Linked DNA regions of Homo sapiens: regions 1 and 2 are each linked to region 3. The links come from fine-mapping of genetic effects on gene expression. A gene starts in region 3. Each other region holds a variant in brackets. All regions are shown on one strand. Distances are between the middles of the regions.

Region 1 (5,000 bases), 41 kb before region 3:
GAAACTCAGATCCCCAGGCCAGGTGTGGTGGCTCTTGCCTGTAATCCCAGCACTTTGGGAGGCCGAGGCGGGTGGATTGCCTGAGATCAGGAGTTCAAGACTAGTCTAGCCAACATAGTGAAACCATGTTTCTACTAAAAATACAAAAAAATTAGCTGGATGTGGTGGCATGTCCCTGTAATCCCAGCTACTTGGGAGGCTGAGGCAGGGGCATTGCTTGAACCAGGGAGGTGGAGGTTGCAGTGAGGTGAGATCACACCACTGCACACCAGCCTGGGCAACAGAGTGAAACTCCATCTCAAAAAAAAAAACAAAACTCAGATCCCCTTTACCTGCCACCTTGGGGTCTTAGGAGGCAGGTCCCCTTCCCTCCTGGCCCCTGTCTGGCTTCCCTGGGTTTCCCGTTCTCCTTGAGGGCTCCCATACCAACTGTGCCCTGGTCTCCCAGGTATGAGAGTGTGATTGCCACACTGTGTGAGAATCTGGACTCCCTGGATGAGCCTGAGGCCCGGGCTGCCATGATCTGGATTGTGGGCGAGTACGCGGAACGGATCGACAACGCAGATGAGCTGCTGGAGAGCTTCCTCGAGGGCTTCCATGACGAGAGCACACAGGTGAGCCAGCGAGCTGGCCAGGGTGTGAGTCATGACTGGCAGCTCAGCCCCACTGTGGCCCATACTGCCATGAAACCCTCCCTTCCTATTACCTCGTAAACAGCCCTGACAGACAGATGAGTGATGTGCGCGTAATGGACACCGCCCCTTTTCCTCCTCACTGCAGTACAGTCGAGTCGGGGACACGTGAGAGTCTGTGGTGGTGTGCGTGGAAGGCAGGCAAAAGTTCTTCATTTTGTTTTAATTCCATAGTCATATTTTAATAGGAAATATATTGACTTGGTTTAAAATTGATACAAAAGCATATATAGTGAAAAGTTTCCCTCTCATCACTTTGTAGGACACAAATTCTCCTCCCAGAAGTCATCACTTTTTTGATTTCTTAGGAAAGTTCAGGAGATCATTTAGGAATACACCAGTAGACCCACAGATACACACACATGCACCCATCCTTCCTATACACACATACACACACATATGCAACCAATTCTTATTTTTCATGGTGCTTCTGTTCCATAGTCATGGCAGACACTGAATTAGCAAGTACTGAACCATAGCTCCTAGGAGAAATATAGAGTTTAGTTTCTGTGAGCATCTAGACCCAACGTTTTTGTCAATTGATCAGTTAATAACCTTTTTAAATGTGTGTTTCTGTTTAAAAACACCTTAGTTAATATATATTGTCAATTCATTGACATTGAACTCATGGCCATGGATACTGTAATTCATGCCTTAGCGAAGCTTATCAAGGACATGTTTTCTCTGAGGCACATCACAGCCTTCTGTGCTTGGGGACACTAGGCAAGCACTTCAGTGCTAGGGAGCATTTTAAACAAGGAAATCAACAAAAAGCTCAAAAATGTGAAAAACATGGCACTAAATAGGTGGTGGAAAGGATGCTTGTTTACAGGATGAGAGCTGAAACATGAGTGTTGCCTTATTTGACCTCAGCTGTGAATGTGTGTGTCAGGCAACTGAAAGCTTTCACGGTTCTGCACGTATTTGCAAATGACTGCAAAGGCACCATGAGTCTTGATTTGGGGGCTACAAGTAAATTTTAGCAAGTAGGCAGATTCACAAACATGGATTGCTCAAGTAGTGAGAATCAACTGTATCTACACTGCCCTCTCATTTATTTTTAAACACTGCTGTAGCATACTCTGTAAATTCAAATTGTTTAGCACCTTGCCTTTTTCTGTTACCAACACCTGCAAAGACCATGCTCTCATTCATTTATGCTTTATTTAACCATCCTCTCCTGGTGGGTATTTAGGTGTCCAGTCTTGTGCTCATTGAAACAGTACTGCCGAGAATAACCTGTGTAATGCACATCTGCAGGCATAGCTGGAGGATACATTCATAGGAGCAGGATGCTTAGAGAAAAGAGCATGTGAGTTTGAGATTTGGGTAGCTGTTGCCAGATTCCTGTTGTGGAGGTTGTGCTGGTTTAGACTCCTATCTCAGATGCTGGGATTGCCCTCTCCTTACTTCTGCTTTGTTTTTGCCAGTCCAGTAGCTAACAGGGGTACCTCACTGTAGTTCTGTTTGCATTTCTGTTATGAATGAGGCTGAATGTCTGCCTTGTCATTTGTATTCCCTTTTCTCAGTTAACTGGGAACTGTCTGTTAGTCTGTTGGTGAGCACAGAAATTTTTGCTGCCCAACTGGGGTTGTGTAATCCCGTGGGTCCAAGTGTGGGACTTAGAATGAGAGATCCCAGAGTCCATACCCCTCCTCTGCCCCTTCCTGGCTCAGTAACTTTATGCTTATCCCTTTAACTCTCTGAGCCTCAGTTTCTTCATTTGTAAAATGAGAATCATTAGATCTTCCCTCATCCTCTTGCTACGAAAGTTAAATTAGGGTGCTTTGTGTAATGTCCTTGACACATGGCCAGCCCATAATAAACACTCGTTCATGGTAGTGTTGGTTTGGGCCAAATTGGTTTCAAAAGCAAACTAGTCCAGGCCAAAAAGGGGACCAACTGGTTCCGGTAGCTGGCAAGTGTGGGTAGCATGCTCTCTTCTGGGACTCCTGGCTGAGGGTGCTTGGATGGTGGCATTGAGCTATCTTCTGCCATGGATAGGCTCCCAACAGTGGGAGCTGTAAGGAATCAACAGTTCCAGGCTATGTCCTTATGGCACAATAACTCCCATGGGAAGAGTTTTTCCCCTCCCCTCAGTAGTTCCAGCAAAAGTCCCAGGACCTATTTGCATTATCCTGAGCCAGGCACTGTGACTCTGGTTGGCGAGGTCTCTCAGGCACCGATCCCAGTTTGTGTGGACTGAAAGGGACAGAAAGAAGGGCGAGGCTCTGAAGGAAAGCCAGTGTTTCTGTTCCCAGAAGACAGAATAGATGCTGGGTGAGCA[A/G]AAACAACAGATGTCCATCTCAGAATCACAGTACTAATTCCCACCGTCACCCCCCCCCACTGCCACCTGCCTCCAGACTGCCTTTGCTTGCAATACCAGCCTCTTCCCTCTGTCTCAGAAGCAAAGCTTGCCTATGCTGGGTTCTGCTCCTGCAGTCAAGTCCTGCCTGGGATCACTGCAAGGATGTCCTGTAGTGCAGGGATCCCCAACCCCCGGGCCACCATGGCCTGTAAGGAACTGGGCTGCACAGCGGGAGGTGAGCGGCGGGCAAGCAAGCATTACTGCCTCAGCTCCGCCTCCTGTCAGATCAGCGGCGGCATTAGATTCTCATAGGAGCGCAAACTCTATTATGAACTGCACATGAGAGGGATCTAGGTTGTGTGTTCCTTATGAGAACCTAATGCCTGATCTGAGGTGGAGCAGTTTCATCCTGAAACCATCCCCCAACCCGCATCCCCTATCTGTGGAAAAATTGTCTTCCACAAAACTGGTCCCTGGTGCCACAAAGGCTGGGAACCGCTGCTGTAGGGGTGTGCTTCTGCCCCTATAATAGGGTCAGTCTTTTGCAGCTAAGCCTGCTAAAAAGCTAGAATGAGAGAAGCTGGACAGGGAGAGGTAAGCCAAGAGTCTGGTGGTGTGAACAGAAACAGAGCTCTGAAGTTTGAGATCCAAGCTCCTCCTCCCTGTTGTGTGGCCTGGAGCACAGTTACTTGAACTCACCAAACCCATTTCCTTGTCTCTAGTGCAGTTATTGCAAAGACTGCTGGGCCTTGTTTGTAAAGTGGGGGTGTGATGTAATTCAGTAGCCTGTTCACTTTGCATCTTTGGTTCACAACACAGTTCAAAGCTCTTTTAAGAATACTTGTTAGGGCCAGGCACAGTGGCTTACACCTGTAATCCTAGCATTTTGGGAGGCCAAGGCAGGCAGATCACTTGAGGCAGGAGTTTGAGACCAGCCTGACCAACATAATGAAACCCCGTCTCTACTAAAAATACAAAAATTAGCCAGGCATGGTGGTGTGCGTCTGTAATCCCAGCCACTCAGGAGGCTGAGGCAGGAGAATCGCTTGAACACGGGAGGCGGAGGTTGCGGTAAGCCGAGATCGCACAACTGCACTCCAGCCTGGGCAACAGACCAAGACTCCATCTCAGAAAAAAGAAAAAAAACAAAACAAAACTTGTTAACTGGGTGCAGCGGCTCACGCCTGTAACCCCAGCACTTTGGGAGGCCGAGGCAGGAGGATCTTTTGAGTCCAGGAGTTCGAGACCAACCTGGGCAACATAGTGAGACCTCATCTCTATAAAAAAAAAAAATTAGCTGGGTGTGGTGGCACACCCCTGTAGTCCCAGCTACTTGGGAGGCCTAGGTGGGAGGATTGCTTGAGCCTGGGAAGTTGAGGCTGCAGTGAGTCAAGATCACACCACTGCACTCCAGCCTGGGCAACAGACCGAGACTCCATCTCAGAAAAAAGAAAAAAAACAAAACAAAACTTGTTAACTGGGTGCAGCAGCTCATGCCTGTAACCCAGCACTTTGGGAGGCCGAGGCAGGAGGATCTTTTGAGTCCAGGAGTTCGAGACCAACCTGGGCAACATAGTGAGACCTCATCTCTATAAAAAAAAAAAAATGAACTGGGTGTGGTGGCACATACCTGTAGTCCCAGCTACTTGGGAGGCCTAGGTGGGAGGATTGCTTGAGCCTGGGAAGTTGAGGCTGCAGTGAGCCAAGATCACACCACTGCACTCCAGCCTGGGCAACAGAGCGAGACCTTGTCTCAAAAAAAAAGAATACTTGTTTAGTGCTTGACGATTTGGAGTTTTTTGTTTGTTTGTTTTAGTGGCGAAATCTCACTATGTTTTGCCCAGGCTAGCCTTGAACTCCTGGGCTCAAAGGATTCTGAATAGCTAGGACTATGGGCCTGCACCACTGCACCGGGCTTGACAATTATGGAACTCATTTTATATTGTCTTGTTGAATCTTCTCATCCTTGGCTCCTAGGCCTCTCTAGCCATGGACAGCAG
Region 2 (6,222 bases), 73 kb before region 3:
AGGCCTGCTAATGCCTGGTGCTGGCCTATGCTGATAGGTCAACAGGCCAGATATGGCTTCAGGCTTCAGATAAGCCCTCTAGTTGCTTACTTCATTTTAATGGGAGAGAGAGACAAAGAAGTAGAGAAAAAAATGCAATGATTAGAAAAACCAATAAGCCACAAGGGAAACAAAAGGCATAGCAGCCAGAACTTATTAAAATATAGGTCAGATGTCAGGACTCCTCTGCTCAAAACCCTCCAGTGGCTCCAGCTCACTCAGTAAAAGCCAGAGACCTCACGCTTGATCATAAGGCCCCCTGCATTCTCCTGTGACTTCCTGACCCACTGTTTTCCTCATTGCTCACTCAGCCACATTCACTTCCCTTCTGTTCCTCAGACATGCCAGGCACATACTCACCTTTGCACTGGCGATCTCTTTTGCTTGGCAGGCTCTTTCGCAGACAGTGTCACCTGTCACCTTCTCAAGGAGGCCTTCTATGGCCACCCTAGTTAAATTTTAACTTCCCTTCCTCCCCTCTCCCCTCCCTATCCTCCTTCCCTCCTCTTTTTTGCCTCCATTGTGTTTATCACTATCTAAGATGTTATATATTTTACTCACTTATCTTGCTTACGGTCTCTTTCCCCCATTAGGACATAAACTCCATGTAGGGAAGGATTTTTGTCTGTTTCTTTCACTCCTGCATTCCCAACATGTAGAAGTGTTTCTGGTACACGAAAGATGCTCAGGAAATGTATGAATAAGAACACTGAAGGATGTGGACAGAGAAATACCTTCTTAAGGTTGTACATGCATGGCCAGGTGCCGTGGCTCATGCCTGTAATCCCAGCTACTTGGGAGGCTGAGGTGGGAGGATCATTTGAGGCCAGGAGTTCAAGACCAGCCTGGATAATTTAGCGAGACTCCACAAAAAACTTGAAAAGATTAGCTGGGCATGGCACACGCCTGTAGTCCCAGCTACTCAGGAGGCTGAAGCAGAATTGCTTGAGCCCAGTAGTTTGATGCTGCAGTGAGCTATGATCACACCCCTGCACTCTAGCCTGGGTGACAGAGCAAGACTATCTGTCTCTAGCAACAACAACAAAAAAGATAGTACATGTAGGAAAGGTATTTTTTTTTTGTTTCTTTTTTTAAGCATCAGAGGTATCACGCTGAAGGGAAGTTATCTTTGAAATGAGATCATCTAAGCTGAGATTTGAAGGATAAATTGGAGCAGTTAGGAGAGGATAATCCAAGCAGAAGGATCAGCAAGGGTAGAGATAGTGAAGAGTTGGCTGTTAGAGGAACAAAGAAGGCATGTGGGCCTGGAGGCAAGGACCTGGTACTTATATCCTGTGCCAGAGCCCCCCACCTTCTGCAGCTCTGTCACTCTGAGCTGATACCTATGGGAGCAGGTGAGAGTGACTTGGCCTCACTGAACGTTTCTCCCACTGGAGATGTTGCCACCTGATCTTCTACCCTTGCCATTTCTTCTCTCTCTCATAATTTATTCACTTAACTTCCATTTATTGGCTGTAAATGTGCTAGGGGTCTGGCATGTTCAATTTCAGTATAGTTAGAATAGCTTGACAATCAGAGCAGATGTATCTCTGATCCTGGATAACCCCGTGAATGGAACATGGAGAAGCTGCTCTAGCAGAGGTTGGTTTACAAAACATGAAATTTGCCCAAGAAGAGAGTTGAGCACTGGTCATTCAGCTACTTATTGAACACCTGTTTGCCAGGTACCAGCCTAGGAGTCAGGAATATGATAGTGAACAAAATGGACAAAATCCTTACCCCCATTTACATTAGGGAATTTATAGGGGGAGAAAGAATAGACAACGTAAGTATATTTTATAGTGTGTAGGTAATAGGTAATAAGTACTTTGAAGGGAAAAAGGGCAAAGAGGGTTAGGAAGTGGTGGGGATTATGGGGGAGGGGTATACAATTTTAAATAAAATGGTCAAAGAAGGCCTCAATGAGAAGATGACATTTGAGCCAAGACCTAAAGAGGTGAGGGACTGAGCCATGAGGCTGTCTGGAGAAAGAGCCTTCCTAGCAAAGTGAATAGCACGGGCAAAGGCCCTGGGGTGGATGCATGTTGTGTTCGAGGATCAGTAAAGAGGCCTGTGCGGCTGGAGCTGAGGGAATGATGGGGAGAAGAGTTCAAAGGGTAATGGCCAGCAGGGTGCATGCGTGAGAGAGGAGGGGCATGCATCTCTTATAGGACCTGTGGGCTATGAGGCCATGGTAGGGACTTTGGCTTTTACTATGAGTAAGACAGAGAACCGTTGGAAGACGTTGAGCAGAGGGGTGCTACTGTCTGATTTGGACTGTAAGAGGATCATCCTGGCTGTTGCTGAGATGGGGTGTCAGCAAAGCAGTGTGGGAGCAGCTTTGTTAGCACTCTAAATGGAAGGTGATGCTGGCTTGGAGCTGGGGTTAGTGATGGAGCTAGTGAGAAGCTGCTCATGGATTCTAGATTCATTTTGAAGGTCGGAATCCAATAGGATTTGCCGATAGATTTAAAGGAGAGTATGTTGTTAAGAGTGACTCAGGTTTTTAGCCTGAGGCCCTCTTAAAGATGGTGCTGGCAGGAACTAGATGATGTAGACTGCAGGGTGAGCCAGTTGGGGAAAGGAAGGAAGCAGGAGGTCAGTTTTTATCCCATTGTTTGAGCTGCCTGCTAGTCATCTCCACAGTAATGTGGAGATGTCAGTTACACAGTTTGGACATGTGTGCCCGGGGGTTCTGGGGAGAGGTTGGGCTATGTGGATGGTATGTAAAGCTGTGATACCGGATGATCCACCAAAGAGGCAAAATAGCATAGATGGGGAAGAGAAGAGGTACCAGGCCTGAGCCCTGGGGCACACAGTGTTGAAGGAGAAGGAGAGGAACAAGCAAAGGAGACTGAGAAGGCGCAGACAGTGGCGTAGGAGGGCAGGCAGAGAGCATGGCATCCTAGCATTTGAGGGAAGACAGGTTTTCAGGAAGGAGGGAGTGATCAGTAGTGTCAAATGCTTATCAGCATGAGACTTGTCATTTGACATGACCATTGTGTCTTCTCCTGGCAGGACCCAACACACCTGGCATCCAGAACCATTTCTGAATCTCATTCTTCCTTCCCTAGCCTCGTCTGCTCCTTTCCCTTCCAGGTCCTTTCCTTCAGCCAGGCAGCGGGGCTCACAGACTTCTTGTTTTGGCCTTAGGTAAATCACTCATCTCTCAGTGTCTCTAATTCCTTGTTTTTTAACTGAATTACCCTGAGAATTAAATGAGAAGGGTTGTAAATCACTTAGCAAGAAGCCGTTCCCCAGCTAGTGTTGATTTAATTGTTGTCAGTTCCCTCCGTTGTCACATTGGCAATTTCGTGGTGCATCTCTTTGCCACCTCCACTCTTGCCTCTCTAAATCTGACCTGTCTTTTTGCGTCAGCCAAGCCCCTCTTCATCTAAGAGAACTTCCCTTGCTGCTCCACCTATCTCAGAACCCTCCTCCTCTGGAGGCATGATCACTCTGCCGTTCCCCTGCAGTCCTTTACCTGGCCTCTAAATCTGTAAGAGCTCAGTGAGAAAAGACTGTCCTTTGTTTACTGTGTGCATGCTTCCGTGTGGGGCACAGTTCCAGGCATGGAGCGGATGGTGCTCTACACTGTTAATTTGACAGATCTTCAGAAAGTGTTCCCATTACATAGATGGGAAAACCGAGATCACAAAGAGCGTTGTTCTGTAGTCTCTGGCCTCTTTCTCCTCATCTCGATTAATTTAAGTATTGTTCAGAAGAAGCCTTACTTACTTTATTTTCAAGTCCAGAGGAACTTTTTCTTTTTTTGAGATGGAGTCTTGCTCTGTCACCCAGGCCAGAGTGCAGTGGTGCGATTTCAGGTTCAAGCAATTCTCCTGCCTGAGACTCCTGAGTAGTTGGGACTATAGGTGCGAGCCACCATGTCCAGCTAATTTTTGTATTTTTAGTAGAGATAGGTTTCGCCATGTTGGCCAAGCTGGTCTCGAACTCCTCACCTCAAGTGATCTGCCCACCTCGGTCTCCTAAAGTGCTGGGATTACAGGCATGAGCCACTGCGCCCATCACTTTTTTTTCTTCACAGCAGATCTTTCCGCACATTACGGCTTATAGATCAGTTCAGAACTGGTACCTGATTCTAGAATGGAGTTCTAGAGACTCAAAGCCAATATAAGAACGTTTGCATGTGACATTTGTCTGCCTTTAGTTCCTTTTCATTCTGAAGTCTTTAATTGCTAGTGGGCCTCAGGAAACTGACTTTTTTTTTTTTTTTTTTT[TG/G]TGGGACGGAGTCTTGCTCTGTTGCCCAGGCTGGAGTGCAGTGACACGATCTCAGCTCACTGCAAGCTCCGCCTCCTGAGTTCACACCATTCTCCTGCCTCAGCCTCCCGAGTAGCTGGGACTACAGGCACCCGCCACCAGGCCCAGCTAATTTTTTGTATTTTTAGTAGAGATGGGGTTTCACCGTGTTAGCCAGGATGGTCTCGATTTCCTGACCTCATGATCCGCCCGCCTCGGCCTCCCAAAGTGCTGGGATTACAGGCGTGAGCCACTGCGCCCGGCCTTTTTTTTTTTTTTTTTTTTTTTTTGATACGGAGTTTCTTTCTCTCGCCCAGGCTGGAGTGCAGTGTCACATTCACAGCTCACTGCAGCGTCAACCTCCCAGGCTCAAGCAATCTTCCCACCTCAGGCTCCTGAGTAGCTGATACTACAGATGTATGCCACCACACCTGGCTAATTGTATTTTTGTAGAGATGGGGTTTCGCCATGTTGCCCAGGCTGGTCTTGAACTCCTGCGCTCAAGAGATCTGTCTGCCTCAGCCTCACACAGTGCTAGGATTACAGGTGTGGGTCACCGTGCCCGGCCAGGAGATTGATTTTGACTAATCAGTTTTCATCCAAATCCCAGGAGGCCCATAACTTGGCAAGCGCACCCAGATAGGCTTTCACTAGGCACATGACCAAACTTGACGTTCCCTGTTGTCCAAACCGGCTGGGCTGGCCCTAAAATAACCTGTAATTCAACATCTGAGGGACTCTGCAGGGATGTGTGGCAACCCATTTCACATACCCTTTACCCTAGAGCATGTATATTTCTGCCAGGGCTTCATTCAGAGAGGAGCAGTTAGTTGCCTTGCTGGACAGAGTGGGACATGTGTGACCTTATTAGGGGGCAGCAGTGGAGAGTGCCGGCACTGCCATTTTCTAGCTGTGTAACTCCAAACAAATGCCTTGACCTCCCTGGTACTTCAGTTTCCTCATCTGTAAACTTGTGATAATATTAAAACCTTCATGGATTATCGTGAAGACTAACTTTTTTTTTTTTTTTTTGAGACAGAGTCTCGCACTGTCACCCAGGCTGGAGTACAGTGGCACGATCTTGGCTAACTGCAACCTCCGCCTCCCAGGTTCAAGCGATTCTCCTTGCCTCATCCTCCAGAGTAGCTGTGATTACAGGCGCCCGCCACCATGCCTGGCTAATTTTTTTGTATGTTTAGTAGAGACAGGTTTCACTATGTTGACCAGGCTGGTCTCAAACCCCTGACCTCATGATCTGCCAGCCTCAGCCTCCCAAAGTGCTGGGATTATAGATGTGAACCACCACGCCTTTCCACGAGGACTAACTTTAAAGCTCTTTACATAGTGTCTGTCACATGGTGCACATCCATTTACCATTACTACTACCACTGCCACCTTTGTTCCAAATTTCATGCTGAGCCTAAAGAACACAGATTATTTTCTCATAGTGATTGAACTGACTTGGAAGAGCCTGTCTGAATTTGGTAACCACGTTTTCTCAGAGAGAAAGTCTGAAATCTGGTTTTTCTACTGCTGACTCACCTTTTAGTCTTCCAGCTGGCCTTACCTGTTTCCCTGTCTGTAAAGTGAACTTAAGTATTTACCTATAAGGACCTTTTTCCTTTTTTTTTTTTTTTTTTTTTTTTTGAGACAGGGTCTCACTCTGTCACCCAGGCTGGAGTGCAGTGGCACGGTCTCGGCTTACTGCAACCCCCGCCTCCCAGGTTCAAGCGATTCTTCCACCTCAGCCTCCCGAGTAGCTGGGATTACAGGCACCTGCCACTACACCCAGCTAATTTTTGTATTTTCAGTAGAGACAGGGTTTCACCATGTTGGCCAGGCTGGTCCCAATCTCCTGACCTCAAGTGATCCTCCCACCTCGGCCTCCCAAAGTGCTGGATTGTGGGCATGAGCCAGCATGCC
Region 3 (5,000 bases):
AGAGCCCCCTGGGGCACCTACTGTGTGCCAGGCACCTTGCCCAGGTTTTTCCATGCCTCGTCTCAACCGAGCATCACAGCACCCGCTCAACCTCGAGCCTCCATGAGGTTGTGGGTACATCTGCCTAAGACTGACTGCAGGGAGGGCACAGAGGAGGCGCCCCGATCATGCGGCCCCCCAGAAGAAGGAATGCACAAGCTCAGTTGAGGCACAGTTAGCACACAAAGTGAGGGAAGATCGTGCCAGGAGCCCGCATCCTGTCCCAGGCCCGGCTGGGCTGCGTCATCTCCCCGGCACCTCCCTCTCTGTGGGCTACCCATTTCCTTGGGGTCAGGTATACATTCCTCGGTTTGGTGCTCAACATGTGCACTCTTTTTGTGGGGCAGACTGTTCTGCAGATAGCAGGGTGGACCCTGGGAGGTTCAGGGACAGATTGCAGGCACTGGCTGTGCTGTCGGGTCCCTGGCACCTGGTGCTGGGGGACTCACCAGCTCGTCGAGGTTGCGCAGGTCGCTGGGTGTCATGCGGGGGCCGCGGGCAGGAGTCCCTGGTGCGGGGGCGGTTTCAGTGGTGTCCTCCCCAGCGGCAGGGGCGTTGGGGGCTGGGGGTGCAGCACGCAGCTCCCGCTCAATCTCCTGCTCAAACTGCACGAGGCGTGGGGCCAGCAGGCCCAGGCGTGCCCCACGCCGCGCCACCTCCAGCAGGCACAGCACCACGCTCTTCTCGTTCTTGCGCAGCACCAGGTCCTCAGTCTCAAACATGAGCACCTCCGGCACACCCAGCTCCACGCGGCACCAGCCGATGAAGGTGGCCACGTTGTCGCGCGCCATGAAGGAGCCAGGCACTACACTGTGCGCCTGGAAGGCCACACCTCGGGCCGGGCGGGCGGCTGCCAATGCACGGGCAGCCTCGGTCACGGCGTTGGCATGTTGGCACAGGGTCGTGCCCGTGGCCAGCCCTGTCAGGAAGCCATCGCCACCACCCGGGAGACCCAGGCCGTACAAGGCATTGAGCCACTCGGCCAGGTCCTCCTTCATGGCCTCCACGTAGGCCTCACTGGAGCGAAATGGCCGCACGCTCTTGGCCGCCGAGCCCGCGATGCCCGCCACTGGGTCTGCCATGCCCGGACCGGCCGAGTCACTGTGGGCAGGAACACAGTTCAGGATCGCTGTGGGGACCCAGTAAGCGCTCAGTACAAATTAAGCTGCTGGCCACCTGCACCAGTCTGTCACTCAGGCCAAATGCCTGGTTTACATGTTGGCTCTGGGAAATGTCGGTGCCCCAAGTTTCCTCATCTGCGAAATGGGTACAGTAACATTCCCTGCCTCATAGGACTCTATGGGATAATTTTTATAAATTTAGGGTCCATTAAGTGTTTGCTGTGTGGCTTTTTGCGGTGGAAACTGGGGCTTGGCTGGGGCCTCCCTCTCAGGCAGGGAGGCGCGCCCATTGTGAAGGGCTGGGACCTAGAGAAGTGAAGACAACGGCTAAGGCCCCCAGTGGACACGAAAGGAACCCAGGTCCTGACCTCAGAGTGGGTTATGTGCATGGCTTAGGGCTGGTGCCCACCCCATGTCCTGCGGGAAGGTCCCCGTGCCTTCCTTGGCCCCCCTTCCATAAGGGCTGTGCCGTCATTAACGACATAGCAGCAGCAATAGTGTAACAGCACGACCGCGCTCGGGCTCAGCGCGCGGAGGCATTATCTCCATTTTATAGATGAGGAAACTGAGGCGCAGAAAGGGTCGAGCTCGTGAAGGTCGCAGAGCTGTGGGTGGAGGAGCCCGGCGTCCAGGCGGCGCAGCGTGGCCGGTCTCGGCGATCCGGGGCCAGGGCCAGGCCCCGCCTCCTCCAAGAAGCCTCCCCAGCGCTCCAGGCCGGTGCCTGCGGGGCCAGGACTCAGAGCGGCCTCCGCAGGCCCTGCCGGTGCTGGGGCTCTGGGCCCAGAGAGGGTGCGGGGCCGCCCAAGGTCACACAGCCCCGGGGAACAGAGGCCGAGGACGCCGCTTCCCGCCCCGCCTCCCCACCCCCGTCCATGCGCACCAGGCAGGGAGTGCTGGGGGTCTCCGCGCTCACCTGGCTCATCCCGCGGCCCCGGGGAGCATTGCCCCAGCGGGGGCCGGAGCCGGGCCGGGCCGCCGCAGGGAGGCGCCGCCCGAGCCGCAGCTCTATGCGTCCCGCGCCGCGGCCTCCTCCTCGCCGCCGTCTCCGCCCCGCCTCCCTGGAATTCGGATCCTGCCCGGAGGGGGCGGGCGGGGCCGCGCGCTCTTAAAGGGGCCGCCCCTTCCCCGAGCCGGCGGGAGCTGGGGTGGAGCTGGGGTCTCCCCCCGCCCGCGATCGGGCCAGGAATCCCGGGTCTTCGAGCGCTCTCGACGCAGAGAGCCCCAGGGCCCCCAGACAACTGCGACCGGCCCAGGCGCCCAACCCCCACCCAGCCTAGTACCCGGGGCCCCGTCCAACCTCTTTGGTCTCCTGGGGAGGAGGTTGGGACCTTTTAATCGCCCCCCTCCCCAGACGGTGGGCTCCCCGGGCTGGCGCACAGCACGGCCTGTTCCCAAGATGAAGGCAGGAAGCGATAGCGGCTGGAGGCTGCAAAGTCACCTCCTCCCGGGTGGACCTCCCCTGGCCAGATAAACGGCACCGCCGCGGGGAGGGGGAGGATGCCCCTGGCGACTGAGGGCTCCTTGTGCTCACTGAATGCTCATTTTTGACCCTGAAATGAGGGGAACCGGTTTTACAGATGAGGATACTGAAGCTCAGAGAAGTAGGCAGATGGCCAAAGCCGGAGTTCCGCACAGAACAGGGGACGGGGGGCATCGGAGGCCGGCCGGACGCGGGAGGGTTAAGCCCCGCTGGGCTCTTTTTAAACTGCAGAGGACGGACCGCCGGGATCAGCGGGAAATCCTGCCCCCTGCTGCTGCCGGCTGGGCTGGGCGGGACGTCGGGCGGGTCTGGGCGGCAGCCATGCTACACGGGTGGGGCAGGCCTGCAGGGAAGCCGCCAACCACAGCCAGGCTCAGAGCTCCAATAAATCTCCTACTGTGTGCTGCCAGGACTGCTCTGCGCCCTTGACCTGAATGAACTGGTGTGTCACCTCTGTGAAGGACACTCATGCCCAACTGGGGCACAGTCAGGAGAGCAGCTGGTGGAGCCAGGATTTGAACATGACGATTATGGGGACGCCCTCATCCACGGATCAGCAGCATTGGTTGAGCACCTGTGAGCCAGGCCTCTTGGTGCCAGGCATTCACAGGCATCCCAGAGAGTCCTTGTGACCTTTTCTTTTTTATTTTCTTCCTTTTTTTTTTTTTTTTTTTTTTTGTCTCGCTCTGTCGCTCAGGCTGGAGTACAGTGGCTGGATCTGGGCTCATTGCAACCTCTACCTCCGGGGTTCAAGCGATTCTCCTGCCTCAGCCTCCCGAGTAGCTGGGATTACTGATACCTGCCACCACGCCCGGCTTTTTGTATTTTTAGTAGAGACAAGTTCACCATGTTGGCCAGGTTGGTCTCGAACTCCTGACCTAAGGTGATCTGCCCGCCTCCACCTCCCAAAGGGCTGGGATTACAGGTGTGAGCCACTTGCCTGGCCTGTGTGACCTTTTCAAAGGCGTTTTCTCACCTCAGCGCCCCCCATGGCACTTCCTCCAGTGAGGAAGGCAGTAACTAGCAATCCTCAAGGCTGACACCTGCGTGGCACCTACTGTGTGCTGGGTCTCTTTGGGCACTGGAAATCAACAGCAAAACAGCAGGGAACCAAGCAGAGCCAGCTCTCAGGGCCTGTTGTCCAAGTCTGGCAGGGAGGCAGCCCCAGGGCAGAGACAGGGATGAGGTGCAGAGAAGACAGGGATGGAGCCGGGTGAGGGTGTGGGTGTGAGGGGGCTGCAATTTAAAATCCCTCATCAGGAAAGGAAGTGAGGGAGGAAGGTCGGGGATATCTGGAGAGGGAGAGGGAACGGCCAGTGCAAAGGCCCCATGGTGGGCATGTGTCCGGCGTGCTCAAGAAGACTGGGGAGGTGGCTGAGGCTGGAGTGCAGGGAGGTGGGTGAGGGAGGAGGTAGAGAGATTAGAGAGACCCCAGGGCCGGTTAAGCAGGGCCTTGGGGGCCGTGTCTCTTTTGAGGGACATGGGAGCCATGCAGTGATTTAGAGCAGGGGTGGTTGGCTTAGGTCTTAACATTCCCGGCCGGGCGCGGCGGCTCACGCCTGTAATCCCAGCACTTTGAGAGGCCGAGGCGTGCGGATCACGAGATCGGGAAATCGAGACCATCCTGGCTAACATGGTGAAACCCTGTCTCTACTAAAAAAATACAAAAAAATTAGCCAGGCGTGGTGGCGGGCACCTGTAGTCCCAGCTACTTGGCAGGCTGAGGCAGGAGAAGGAGAATGGTGTGAACCTGGGAGGCGGAGCTTGCAGTGAGCCCAGATCGTGCCACTGCACTCCAGCCTGGGCGACAGAGCGAGACTCCGTCTCAAAAAAAAAAAAACATTCCCTGGGGCTGCTGTGGTGGGCCAGGGCAGGAGCTGGAGCCTCAGAGGAAACCAGGTGGTGAGAGGGCGCTGGATTCTGGCCATATTGTGAGGGGAGAGCTGATGTGCTGGTGGATTGGTTGAGTGTGAGGACGGAATCCAGGACAACTCCCAGGGCTGAGCACTGGGAGGGCGGAGGTGCTAACACCTGGGGAGGGAAGGGCTGCTGGAGGTGGAGGAGGGTTGCAGGTTTGGGGTGGGGGTGAATCAGGGTGTGGACATTTAACAGTTTCATCTTCAAAATACCCCGATGAGCTATGATACTCTTAGGTGTTCTCATTTTACAATTTGGGGAAACTGAGGCCCAGAGAAGGCATGGGATATGTGTAGCCAGCAGCTGTGCAGGAATTTGACTCCTGCTTATACCTACCTTGCTGCATTTTGGGGTTTTGGACATGGGTGAAGTTGGACGGAACCCAGGCTCTGTCATTGGTCATTGGGTGGGATGGTGAAGCTCCCTGAGCCTCAGTGGCACCA

Direction of the effects. Positions count from the first base shown, and alleles are read on the strand shown. Sizes are in standard deviations (SD) of each study's normalised expression. Not every link is listed here.
As copies of G replace A in region 1, the expression in cerebellum of the gene that starts at base 2,577 in region 3 goes down (large effect, 0.80 SD a copy in GTEx).

The links. PIP is the estimated chance that this variant, and not a neighbour inherited with it, causes the effect.
Region 1: its variant is fine-mapped to the expression of GAS2L1 in cerebellum (GTEx, PIP above 0.99). The same link has a PIP of 0.9 or more in cerebellar hemisphere.
Region 2: its variant is fine-mapped to the expression of GAS2L1 in whole blood (INTERVAL, PIP above 0.99).

What each region holds. Positions count from the first base shown.
Region 1 is chr22:29,344,832-29,349,831 of GRCh38, reverse strand. It overlaps AP1B1 (adaptor related protein complex 1 subunit beta 1), which reads left to right. Exons shown (of 23, transcript NM_001127.4): 11 at 449-614. Among named protein-coding and RNA genes, the nearest start is that of SNORD125, 14 kb to the right of the region's middle. The variant A/G (reference allele first, on the strand shown) is at 2,980.
Region 2 is chr22:29,376,920-29,383,141 of GRCh38, reverse strand. The region is part of intron 1 of AP1B1 (adaptor related protein complex 1 subunit beta 1); the gene reads left to right. Among named protein-coding and RNA genes, the nearest start is that of AP1B1, 8.5 kb to the left of the region's middle. The variant TG/G (reference allele first, on the strand shown) is at 4,281.
Region 3 is chr22:29,304,227-29,309,226 of GRCh38, reverse strand. GAS2L1 (growth arrest specific 2 like 1) reads right to left here and starts at 2,577. Exons shown (of 6, transcript NM_001362985.3): 1 at 2,074-2,577; 2 at 489-1,140. The coding sequence starts at 1,121. RefSeq lists silencers at 1,841-1,980, 2,071-2,120, 2,141-2,410 and enhancers at 2,081-2,824, 3,171-3,220, 2,825-3,570.